2 separate regions of the Homo sapiens genome follow, and region 2 is linked to region 1. Evidence: fine-mapped expression QTL. A gene starts in region 1. The other region holds a variant in brackets. All regions are shown on one strand. Distances are between the middles of the regions. Region 1 holds the start of RRN3 (RNA polymerase I transcription factor RRN3). Region 2 overlaps NTAN1 (N-terminal asparagine amidase).

What was found. PIP is the estimated chance that this variant, and not a neighbour inherited with it, causes the effect.
Region 2: its variant is the best candidate, but not a certain one, in a credible set for the expression of RRN3 in whole blood (TOPMed, PIP 0.87).

The regions. Positions count from the first base shown.
Region 1 is chr16:15,091,441-15,096,811 of GRCh38, forward strand. RRN3 (RNA polymerase I transcription factor RRN3) reads right to left here and starts at 2,832. Exons shown (of 18, transcript NM_018427.5): 1 at 2,705-2,832; 2 at 1,069-1,174. The coding sequence starts at 2,793. LOC100505915 (a long non-coding RNA gene) reads left to right here and starts at 2,971. Exons shown (of 4, transcript NR_125434.1): 1 at 2,971-3,371. It also overlaps a transcript of PDXDC1 not described here. RefSeq lists an enhancer at 2,812-3,106.
Region 2 is chr16:15,043,764-15,049,134 of GRCh38, forward strand. It overlaps NTAN1 (N-terminal asparagine amidase), which reads right to left. Exons shown (of 10, transcript NM_173474.4): 2 at 4,234-4,336; 3 at 4,092-4,157; 4 at 3,679-3,787; 5 at 571-644. It also overlaps a transcript of PDXDC1 not described here. Among named protein-coding and RNA genes, the nearest start is that of NTAN1, 9.6 kb to the right of the region's middle. The variant T/TTTGC (reference allele first, on the strand shown) is at 2,205.

The DNA of each region.
Region 1 (5,371 bases):
ACCGTACTTTAACATCAGATGAAATTATAAAAGGAACACTAACTTTCACATGTCAATTGCGGATTATAAAATCATGACTACAAAAATTTAAACACTCATGTTAGTGCAGCCAGAGGGCTTGGAAAAAGGAAAATGATAAACTACATTTAGCTATACTTCTGTATTGACATTTGAATATAATAGTTGATACTCCTGCGAATTCTCAAAAAGCATGAGGGAAAAAAACAGCCAGCTATAATGATCTAATTCAGGAGGATCTAAAAAAGTATTCACTCAAATATGGATACAAATGGATATTACATATAAACATATGGTTACTTAACATTTTCCCTCTACTGCTGAGATACAGTAGAAATGCTTCTAAACTACCACAAAAACAAAAATCCCTACTCAGAGAACTGGTTTACTGTCCCAAAGTAATGCTTAGGTAAGTTCCTCAAAAAATAAAATGCTGTAGGCCAGGCATGGTGGCTCACGTCTGTAATCCCAGCACTTTGGGAGGCCAAGGCGGGTGGATCACAAGGTCAGGAGTTCGAGACCAGCCTGGCCAACATGGTGAAACCCTGCCTCTACTAAAAAAATAAAAAAATTAGCCAGGTGTGGTGGTGTGTGCCTGTAACCCCACCTATTCGGAAGACTGAGGCAGGAGAATTGCTTGAACCTGGGAGGTGGAGGATGCAGTGAGCCGAGGTCACGCCACTGCACTCCAGCCTGGGTGACAGAGGAAGACTCCAGCACAAATAAATAAATAAATAAAATGGTGTAATTGTTTTTAATTCTGGCACTTGCTAAAGTTAAAAGATGCTTCGTAAATAAAGCATTTGAAGAGGTGAAACCTCAGTAAAGACATTATTACTCTCTCATTATTACCTGTGAAATGGGCCAAGGTGGGGGAAAAAAAGGACACTATTACTCTAATTTTGCACTGACGGCATCATGCTATTATTAAATATTTGATTTCAACTGGTATCTTAATTAATCTTGCTATTTCTATTGGTCTTTAGTATAACAGCAATAGTTGTATTCTGACCTAACCAAAAGCAAACCTCACACATTATCTCCCCTTACCTTTTTGTACTTCAGCAAGACTTCTGTCACAGTTCCACCAAACCGAACAGTTTTTCTTGGGGGAGAATTGAAAAAGTCATTCTCTAATGCACGCATATTTGAAATCCTGTGGAACCAAGATTAACAAGCTATTAAGTTCATGAAAATAATAAAAATTATAATAGCCAACATTTATTGAACCAACATAATTCAGTGGAACTATTGTTAAGGCCTCTTTACTGGTCTCCCTGCTTCCACTCTTAACCAACAATCCTTCCTTTGCTCAGCAACCAATAACTGTCTTCCCACTGCACTTACAGTAAAAATCCAAATCTCTCAGTGTGGTCTTTAAGATCCTACATTAATCTGGCCCCTGCCTACCTCTCTCACCTCATCTCCAACAACTTGTTTTACTACAGCCATAACGTCTTTTCTGCTCTTCAAACAAGCCAAGCTGTTTTTCATTTCACTTACTGTTCACTCTATTGGAAATACTCTTTTCCCAAATCTCTACGTGGCTGGATTTTTTTTTTTGAGATGGAGTCTTGCTCTGCTGCCCAGGCTGGAGTGCAGTGGTGTGATCTTGGCTTAACTGCAACCTCCATCTCCCGGGTTCAAGCAATTATCCTGCCTCAGCCTCCTGAGTAGCTGGGATTACAGGCACCTGCCACCATGCCCGGCTGATTTTTGTATTTTCAGTAGAGACGAGGTTTCGCACGTTGGCCAGGCTGGTCTCCAACTCCTGACTTCAGATGATCCGCCCGCCTCGGCCTCCCAAAGTGCTGGGATTACAGGCGTGAGCAACCGCGCCCGGCCTAGATTTTTGTCTTCATTCAAGTGGAAGCTCAAATGACAGATGTCTTCCCAATGAGAAATCTCAAAAGCTCCTTCTCTCCCTTCTCCCTCCCCCATTACCTTGTTGTATAACTGAAATCATCGTGTTCGTTTATTTATTGGCCTATGTACTGCCTTTCCCCCCTATGCTGTAAGCTCTGTAGAAAGCAGGGACATTAGTGTCTTTGGATAAACCACTGTCCCCAGTGTTTAACACAGTAAGCAGGAGCTCGATAATTATTATGAATCATATTACGCTAATTGTTTTACAAGGTTTGCTTCACTTACACGTAGTAAATTAATGAAAAAACATAGCATCCTAATGACTCTGAAAGTTAAACGCCAAGAGTGCTACGGGGGTTAGGGATTTTAAAAGTGGAGCAAAATAAAGACTGCGAAACAAATACGTGTGTCGAAACAAATTCCAAACAAAAAAGATGTAATATTCAATTTGCCATGAGTGACGACGTTCGGCTGATAACCCACATAGCCCAGGGAAATCCCTTCCAAATTTGGACGAAGAAGAGGGAAGGAAGAGGGGTCAAGGCGCAGAAGGCAGTACCCAGGCCTGGGAAATCACGAAGAGACACAGTCGGGAAAGGGGGCCTCCAGAACAGAGAACATAGTCACTTTTCCAGGCCCCACCCATGTCTATTACCCAGTTAGGAGGAATGAGCTCATTTCTGTGAACGTGAGATGACCCTCCACCCCGTGCTCCTATCACACGCCATGAGCTTTGTCCCACATCCTTTCAATCCGCTCCTCTAAGCGCCGTCCTGAGCTTTCGTCCCAGATACGCAGAAGGAAGCGGCCTGAATCTTACCCAGTCCTCGACGCGCCCAGCTTCTTAACTGCAGAGGACGAAGCGGCCGCATCTCCCGGCAAACGCGTGTGAAGCAGCGGTGCCGCCATTGGGCCGAACTAACGCGACCGCTGCGCCTCAGGCCGGATGCCCAGCTCCTTCCAGCCACAGCCTCTGTCCCGGAAGTTGCGCGTGCCAGCGCAACCTTCAGCCAATCAGCGGCCCCGCGTGGGGAGGGCGTATGCTCTCGGCGGGCTAGAGCGCCGCTGAAACCCGCTCCTCGTTCTACTTGGAGGACTTGTTCCAGCCAGCGCTAGTGCGTGAGTATAAGGAGAGACGGGAAGGACCGGCTCCATCCAGCCCTGAGGATCCCGAAGAAAGGGTGGAAACACCCTGGATGTGCTAAGCTGTGGCCGGGTACACTCAAGTGTTAATTTTTTGGAGTCAAAGCCTCCCTCAGTCAAATCGAAGAAACTGAAGCACTTGTGACTGACCCAGATCTTCACGGAGGAAAGGGGATTCGAACCCGGCTGACCCAGGAGCCTGGGCTCTATACTCAGTGCAGCAGTCTCACAGACACCCAAGATAACGTTATCCTCACGGAAACGAGCTCGACGAAGTGACCTACCTCAGAGCCTCAAGGCTATGGTGATGCTGGCATGAGAAACAACAGGAGAGTTACGAAGAGGTGTTACCCCCTTGACTTTATTTATTTATTTATTTATTTTCTTTTGAGGCCGAGTCTTGCCCTTTTGCCCAGGTGGAGTGCAGTGGTGTGATCTCAGCTCACTGCAACCTCCGCCTCCCCAGTTCCAGCAATTCTCGTGCCTCAGCCTCCCAAGTAGCTGGGATTACAGGCGCATGCCACCACACCCGGCTAATTTTCGTATTTTTAGTGGAGACGGGGTTGCACTGTGTTGGCCAGGCTGGTCTCGAACTCATGACCTCAGGTCATCCGCCCGCCTCGGCCTCCCAAAGTGCTGGGATTACAAGCATGAGCCACCACGCCCGGCCAAACTTAAATTTTTAAAAGAGGAACAGGAGTCAGCCAGACCAACAAAAGAGCCACTGGCGTTCCAAGCATAGGAAACGGAGGAAACAGAGGCCAAAACCTCGGGACTGTGGAGGATGTAGAGGGAGAGCAGGGGCTGCCCCTACTCTCAGGGAGGGGAAAAGGTTGCAACTTTGGAAACTGTACAGGCCTATCAAAAATACAAAAATATCCAGCCTGGGTGACACGGTGAAACTCCATCTCTACAAAAAATTTAAAAAATAAAAATAATAAAAATTATCTGGGTGTGGTGGCACACACCTGTAGTCCCAGCTACTCGGGAGGCTGAGGATTGCTTGAGCCTGGGAGATAGCACCACTGCACTCCTGCTTGGGCAACAGAGTGAGACCCTGTCTCGAAATAAATAAATAAGTTTTTAAAAATGCATATGTATGGGCCCGGCGCAGTGGCTCACGCCTGTTATCCCAACACTTTGGGAGGCCGAGGCAAGTGGATCACCTGAGGCCAGAAGTTTGAGACCAGCCTGGCCAACATGACAAAACCCTGTCTCTACTAAAAATACAAAATTAGCCAGGCATGGTGGCAGTGCCTGTAATCCCAGCTACTTGGGAGGCCGAGGCAGGAGAATAGTTTGAACCCAGGAGGCAGAGGTTGCAGTGAGCCAAGATCGTGCCATTGCACTCCAGCCTGGGTGACGAGTGAAACTGTGTCTCAAAAAAAAAAAAGGTGTGTGTGTGTGTGTGTGTGTGTGTGTGTGTTTATATGTATCTCTCTCCAGGAGTTCAAGACCAGCCTGGGCAACATATGGTGGTGCATACCTGTAGTCCCAGCTACTTGAAAACTGAGGACGGAGGATCACTTGAGCCCTGGAGGTCAAGGCTGCAGTGAGCTGTGATTGTACCCCTGCACTCCAGCCTGGACAACACAGCAAGACCCTATTTCACAACATAAAATACAGCAATTTGGTTTTTTTGTTTTTTGTTTTTTTTTTGAGACAGAGTCTCGCTCTGTCACCCAGGCTGGAGTACAGTGTCATGATCTTGGCTCACTGCATCCTCTGCTTCCCAGGTTCAAGCGATTCTTGTGCCTCAGCCTCCCCAGTAGCTAGGATTACAGGCATGCGCCACCATGCCCAGCTAATTTTTGTATTTTTAGTAGAGACAGGGTTTCACCATGTTGGCCAGGCTGGTCTCAAACTCTTGACCTCAAGTGATCCGCCCGCCTTGGCATCCCAAAGTGCTGGGATTACAGGCATGAGCCACCACGCCCCGCCAGCAGTTTGTTAAACATAAACCATAGCTCTGTTTTGCAACAGTGTAAAATCAGTAACTGTCTTTCCTGAGTCTCTATTTGGTCCTTACTGAGTTCCTTGGGAATGTTGGACAGGAATCATCTGTGTCTCAAGGACAGAGGAAATAATTGCACCGTAGCTCACAAAGATACTTCAAGATAACTGTTTAAATGAGAATCTCTTCTTCACTTCCAAGGGAAAGCAAAGCAAAAACAAAAAGCAACAATAGCAAAACAGCAATCTGACAATTATCTGTTTTGTTTTGTTTTGGTTTGAGACAGGATCTCATTGTCTAGCCCAAGTTAGAGCGCAATGGCGCGATCATGGCTCGTTGCAGCCTCGGGCTCCTACAGCTTATGCAATCCTCTCACCTCAGCCGCCCGAA
Region 2 (5,371 bases), 48 kb before region 1:
ATGGTGAAACCCCATTTCTACCAAAAATACAAAAATTAGGTGGGTGTGGTGGCGCACGCCTGTGATCCCAGCTACTCAGGAGGGTGAGGCAAGAGAATTGCTTGAACCCAGGAGGCAGAGCTTGCAGTGAGCCGAGATCATGCTACTGCACTCCAACTTGGGCAACAGAGCAAGACTACATCTCAAAAAAAGAAAAAAAAAGAAAAAATTTGCTAATAGGGAAAAAATGGTATCATCAGTGTTTTAATTTTCTGCAGATTAAAATGGACATTTTTGCCAGGAGGGAGGGTGGCTCTGCTTTCACACAATTCAGAGCACTTACTATTTTGGAATGTGTTCACTGCTGTTTTAGTAGAAAATCTTGTCCCCAGCCCTGCTACCCCTCCCTACACATGAGCTCCACGCATTCAGTCTTTCTGTGAAATTCCAAGCTGGGCAGTCTGTTTCTCTGTGCTGCTCCAAGTGGGTGTGCCCTTCTTGGGTTTTGTACCAATTGGGATTTTTAACCCAAGCAAATATGGGTACATATTTATGTCCAATTTGGGGGAAAGAAAAAAAAAATGAACTTACTAAGAAGTTGATGAGTGAGTTTTTGTGACAACTGCCTGTCGTCACTGAAGCCTCCAACAAGGTGTACTTCCAGCCTGGCAAAGAGATGAGACGGGTCAGAGGCCAGAAGAAGACACCGGTGCGTGCGCTGGTCTCACTTTGAACTTTCATTCTCAGTTTCCATGAACACTTGCTCTACAGCAGAGCTGCAGGTCATCTTCGTGCCACCGCAAAAGAAAGTATCGGCAGCACACTGCCAAGGCCAGTGGCGAGCTTCTGGGGACCCTGCCCAGGGGCCCTGATGACTGAGGGGATCCGTATCTGAACACAAATGTGATGCCGCCTCCATGCACCAGTGGGGAACTTTGCTCTGGAAGAGCACAGGCACAGGACAGGTGCAGTGGCTCACATCTGTAATCCTAGCACTTTGGGAGGCTGAGGTGGGCGGATCACTTGAGGTTAGGAGTCTTGAGACCAGCCTGGCCAACATGGTAAAACCCCATCTCTACTAAAAATACAAAAATTAGGCCGGGCGCAGTGGCTCACGCCTGTAATCCCAGCACTTTGGGAGGCTGAGGCGGGCAGATTGCTTGAGCTCAGGAGTTTGCAACCAGCCTGGGCAACAAGGTAAAACTCCATCTCTACTAAAATACAAAAAAAAATTAGCTGGACATTATGGCATGTGCCTGTAGTCCCAGCTACTTGGGAGGCTAAGGCAGGAGAACTGCTTGACCCTGGGAGGCAGAGGTTGCAGTGAGTCAAGATCGTGCCACTGCACTCCAGCTTGGGCTACAGAGTAAGACTCTATCTCAAAAAAAAAAAAAAAAAGAAAAGAAATTAGCCGGGCATGGTGGCACACCTGTAATCCCAGCTACTCGGGAAGCTGAGGCAGGAGAATTGCTTGAACCTGGGAGGCAGAGGTTGCAGTGAGCTGAGATCGCGCCACTGCACTCCAGCTCTGGGCAATCGAGCAAGACTCCGTCTCAGGGGGAAAAAATAAATAAGTAAGTTGGGCGTGGTGGTGGGCGTCTGTAATCCCGGCTACTCGGGAGGCTGAGGCAGGAGAATCACTTGGACCCAGGAGGCAGAGGTTGCAGTGAGCCAAGATTGCATCACTGCATGCCAGCCTGGGTGACAGAGCCAGACTCTGTCTCAAAAAAAAAAAAAAAAGGTTTGAGGCCAGGTGTGCTGGCATATACCTCTATTCCCAGCTACGCGGGAGGCAGAGGTGGAAGGAATGCTTCAGCCCAGAAGTTTGAGACTAGCCTGGGTGACAGGGTGAAACCCCGGCTCTAAAACAAAAACAAAACAAAACAAAAAGACTGGGCAACTGCCTGCTGGAAGCCCTCCTTAGGAGTCACACTGCGCATTGCACAGTGAAGCTCTTGAGAAGTCCTGCGACTGAAAAATCCAACTAACTTTCTTGAACCCAGTGTTTCCCACACTCATCTACTAACCCCCTTTTCCACAGCCCGTCAAGTGGGCGAATTCACGCTCGGCAAAGTGTTGCCAGACTTTACGCTGCCTTCTCAGACACAAAATCTTCCTAAGGGATGAACCAGAAGCTTGGATGTACCCAACATAGGGCACAGCCTCAAGGGGCCTCATAATAAACTCCAAGTAGTAGCAGTAAGGAGAGCTGCGACCACCATGGC[T/TTTGC]TTGCCACTGGGCCACCAGGTTTGCCTCTGACTCCCTGAGCGATCACAGTTCTACAACAGATCAGGAAGAGCTGACAAGCACGTTCTGAGAACCACGGAGCAGAGTGTGTGGCAACATAATGGCATTGATTACGTCCCCCTGCGGGGGCCAAGATGATAGGAAAATGAAAATACCATTTTGGGCCTGCATGGGTCACGTGTCCATGAAGCCAGCCCAGCCTTGGCACAGACCACAGAGGGAGAATTTAGAATCGACCAGTATTGACTAGCAAATCTCTCCCAGAGAACTCTCTCTTTCCTTTTTAGACTCCTAGGATTAAGCCTTCGTATATGATGGGAGTAGTTCACTCAATGGCTGCCTTAGACTTCCAGTAAAATGAGAGCAACACCTGCCAGGTCTCCACAAAGAGCAAGGAGAGGGGACAGGTGTGTGAACAGTGGTCTTGACAGCAGGCCTGTGTCGTCGGCCTCCACCTAGCTCCTGTGTGCTCCAGCACATCGAGCCTCAGTTGCCCGTCTCTGTCAAATGGAGGCAGCGGCTACTTTACTGCAGTGAGAGAGGATGAGGTGCTGTGGGGGCACCCAGGCTAGAGGCCGCTTCTTATCCAGCAATCCTTGGGGAAACTACCAATCTGCTGGAATTTAAAACTATACCCCTCAGCTGGGAGGATCACTTGAGCCCAAGAGTTTAAGACCGGCCTGGGCAACTTGGCAAAACCCTGTCTCTACCAAAAAAAAAAAAAAAAAAAAAAAAAAAGCTAGCTGGGTATGGTGGTGTACACCTGTGGTCCCAGCTACTTGGGAGGCTGAGGTCGGAGAATCACCTGAGTCCACAAAGTCAAGGCTGCAGTAAGCTGAGATCACACAACTGTGCTCCAGACAGGGCGACACAGCAAGACCCTATCTCAACAACAAAAAGAGAACAAGAAAAAAAACTACATGCCTCGCCCCCTAGCGGTCCCCACATCTTCCTGGCCTCGTTTTCTCCACAGCCCCGCCTCACCACCCAACACCCCATCTTGTGTACAGTCTCTCGGCTTCGGAATACAAACACCTTGGGCCGGGCTTTCTGTCTACTCTTCACTGCTGTGTCCCTAGAAACTACAAGGTGTAGGTGAGAGGAAGCATTTAACAAGCAACTGCGGGAGGAATGACTGCATGGAGAGCTACCACACCCGGGGGAGAGCAAAACGATGTGAAAATCGCAACCTCGACGTTCCTGAGACGACATCAAGTTCAAAGTCAAGCCTTCCATCTCAAATCCAGCACAGACTCCTTGCCTGTGCCCAGCACCCACTCATTCACTCAACCACTGCTGACGCAGTGCCCACGTCGTGCCAGGTTCTGTTCCAGGGGAACGAGGCAGACACGGCAGTGGTGGCATCCTGTGTTCCCCTAACAGCTTCCACAGCCACGTCCTGTATGCGACGGTTCCAAGATCTCAATTCACCTATGAGAGCAGCGTAGATCTCACCTTCCACATTGAGCGTGGTCAGAAAAGGATTTTATGGAGTTCATGATCAAGGGGACCTCAGCTTTGGTGTCGGTTCCGTCACAATGTGTCAAGCAGGTGGCCCCATTACCTGAAGAACAAGGGTGAAAGGACTCAAGTTATTCCCTGATGCGAGTGCAGTGCGCAGGCCGAGACTCCGCCTGTCCCTCCGGACCGCCTCATCTTTGAATATCCTGTAGGGGAAAAACGGACAGGTCTGTGCTCCCCAGCCAACCCATTCTGACCAGGACACCAGGGAGACACCATGCAGACCAGAAAAAAGGTAAGCGGAGTCCGCTTCCAACAAGACACCAGGAAACTCAACACGAGAAATTCAATGGTCCCAAAGGTTGGGTCAGTTTAAGTAATGGTTTCCTTCACCTCTCTCATCATACCTGTGTGCCTCAGGACCACAATGTGACAAGTAGTGGCATCATCAGAACCCAGAATGGAGATGGAGCCTGTTTAAAAAAGAAATAAAATAAAATATCCAATAGCCTTTTGGGATAACGCCCAATTCACTGCTTCCTAACCTACCATCCTTTGGGGAGGTCACTGCAAGCTCTCTTTGCTGAACATACAGAAGGCCCTGGGGTCCCACTTGTTGAACAGACTGACCTCTGAGAAGTCTGGCTCTTTCCTGTTTAATTAAAAAAAAAATAAAATAGTGATGTAAATTAGTGAGGATGGAAAAACTAAAGATGTGGAGAGAGCCAAAGTGGGCTCTGCGTGGGCAGCACGCTAGTGTGTGGGGAGTGTGTTAGTGGACAGAGAGGCTCAAAGAAAAAGGCAGCAGCCACGGTCATTCAGAACAATGCAGAGAAAACGATGCGGTTCTGCGCGGTGGTTTTTTTAACCTATGAAATCGGATGTCATAGTAACCTATGAAATGAGATGCAAAAATCCTTTATTATAGTTTTTTGTTTGTTTGTTTGTTTTTTAAAGACACAGGGCCTCACTATGTTGCCCAGGCTGGTCTTGAACTCCTGGGCTCAAGCAATCTTCCTGCCTTGGCCTCCCAAAGTGCTGGGATTACAGGCATGACCCACCACACCCAGCTATCACAGTTCTTTACTAAAGAGTGTGAGACTCTTAACAATTTTACCATTGTAAAGAGAATCAGATTACACAGGAATAGTGGATGGATGGCTCTGAAATCACATCCCCTCTTTTTTATTTTTTGAGACAGTCTCTCACTCTGTCACCCAAGCTGGAGTATAGTGGTACAATTTCAACTCACTGCAGCCTCCACCTCCCAGGCTCAAGCGATCCTACCACCTTAGCCTCCCAAATAGCTGGGACTACAGGCTTGCACCACCACACCTGGCTGAGTTTTATACTTTTTGTAGCGACGGGGTCTCCCTATGCTCCCCAGGCTGGTCTCAAACTCCTGGGCTCAAGCAATCCACCCACCCTGGCCTCCTAAAGTGCTGGGAGTACAGGCACACACCACCACACCTGGCTGATTTTTATACTTTTTGTAGAGATGAGGCCTCCCTATGCTGCCCAGGCTGGTCTCAAACTCCTGGGCTCAAGCAATCCACCCACCCTGGCCTCCCAAAGTGCTGGGAGTACAGGCACACACCGCCACACCTGGCTGAGTTTTATACTTTTTGTAGCGACGGGGTCTCCCTATGCTCCCCAGGCTGGTCTCAAACTCCTGGGCTCAAGCAAT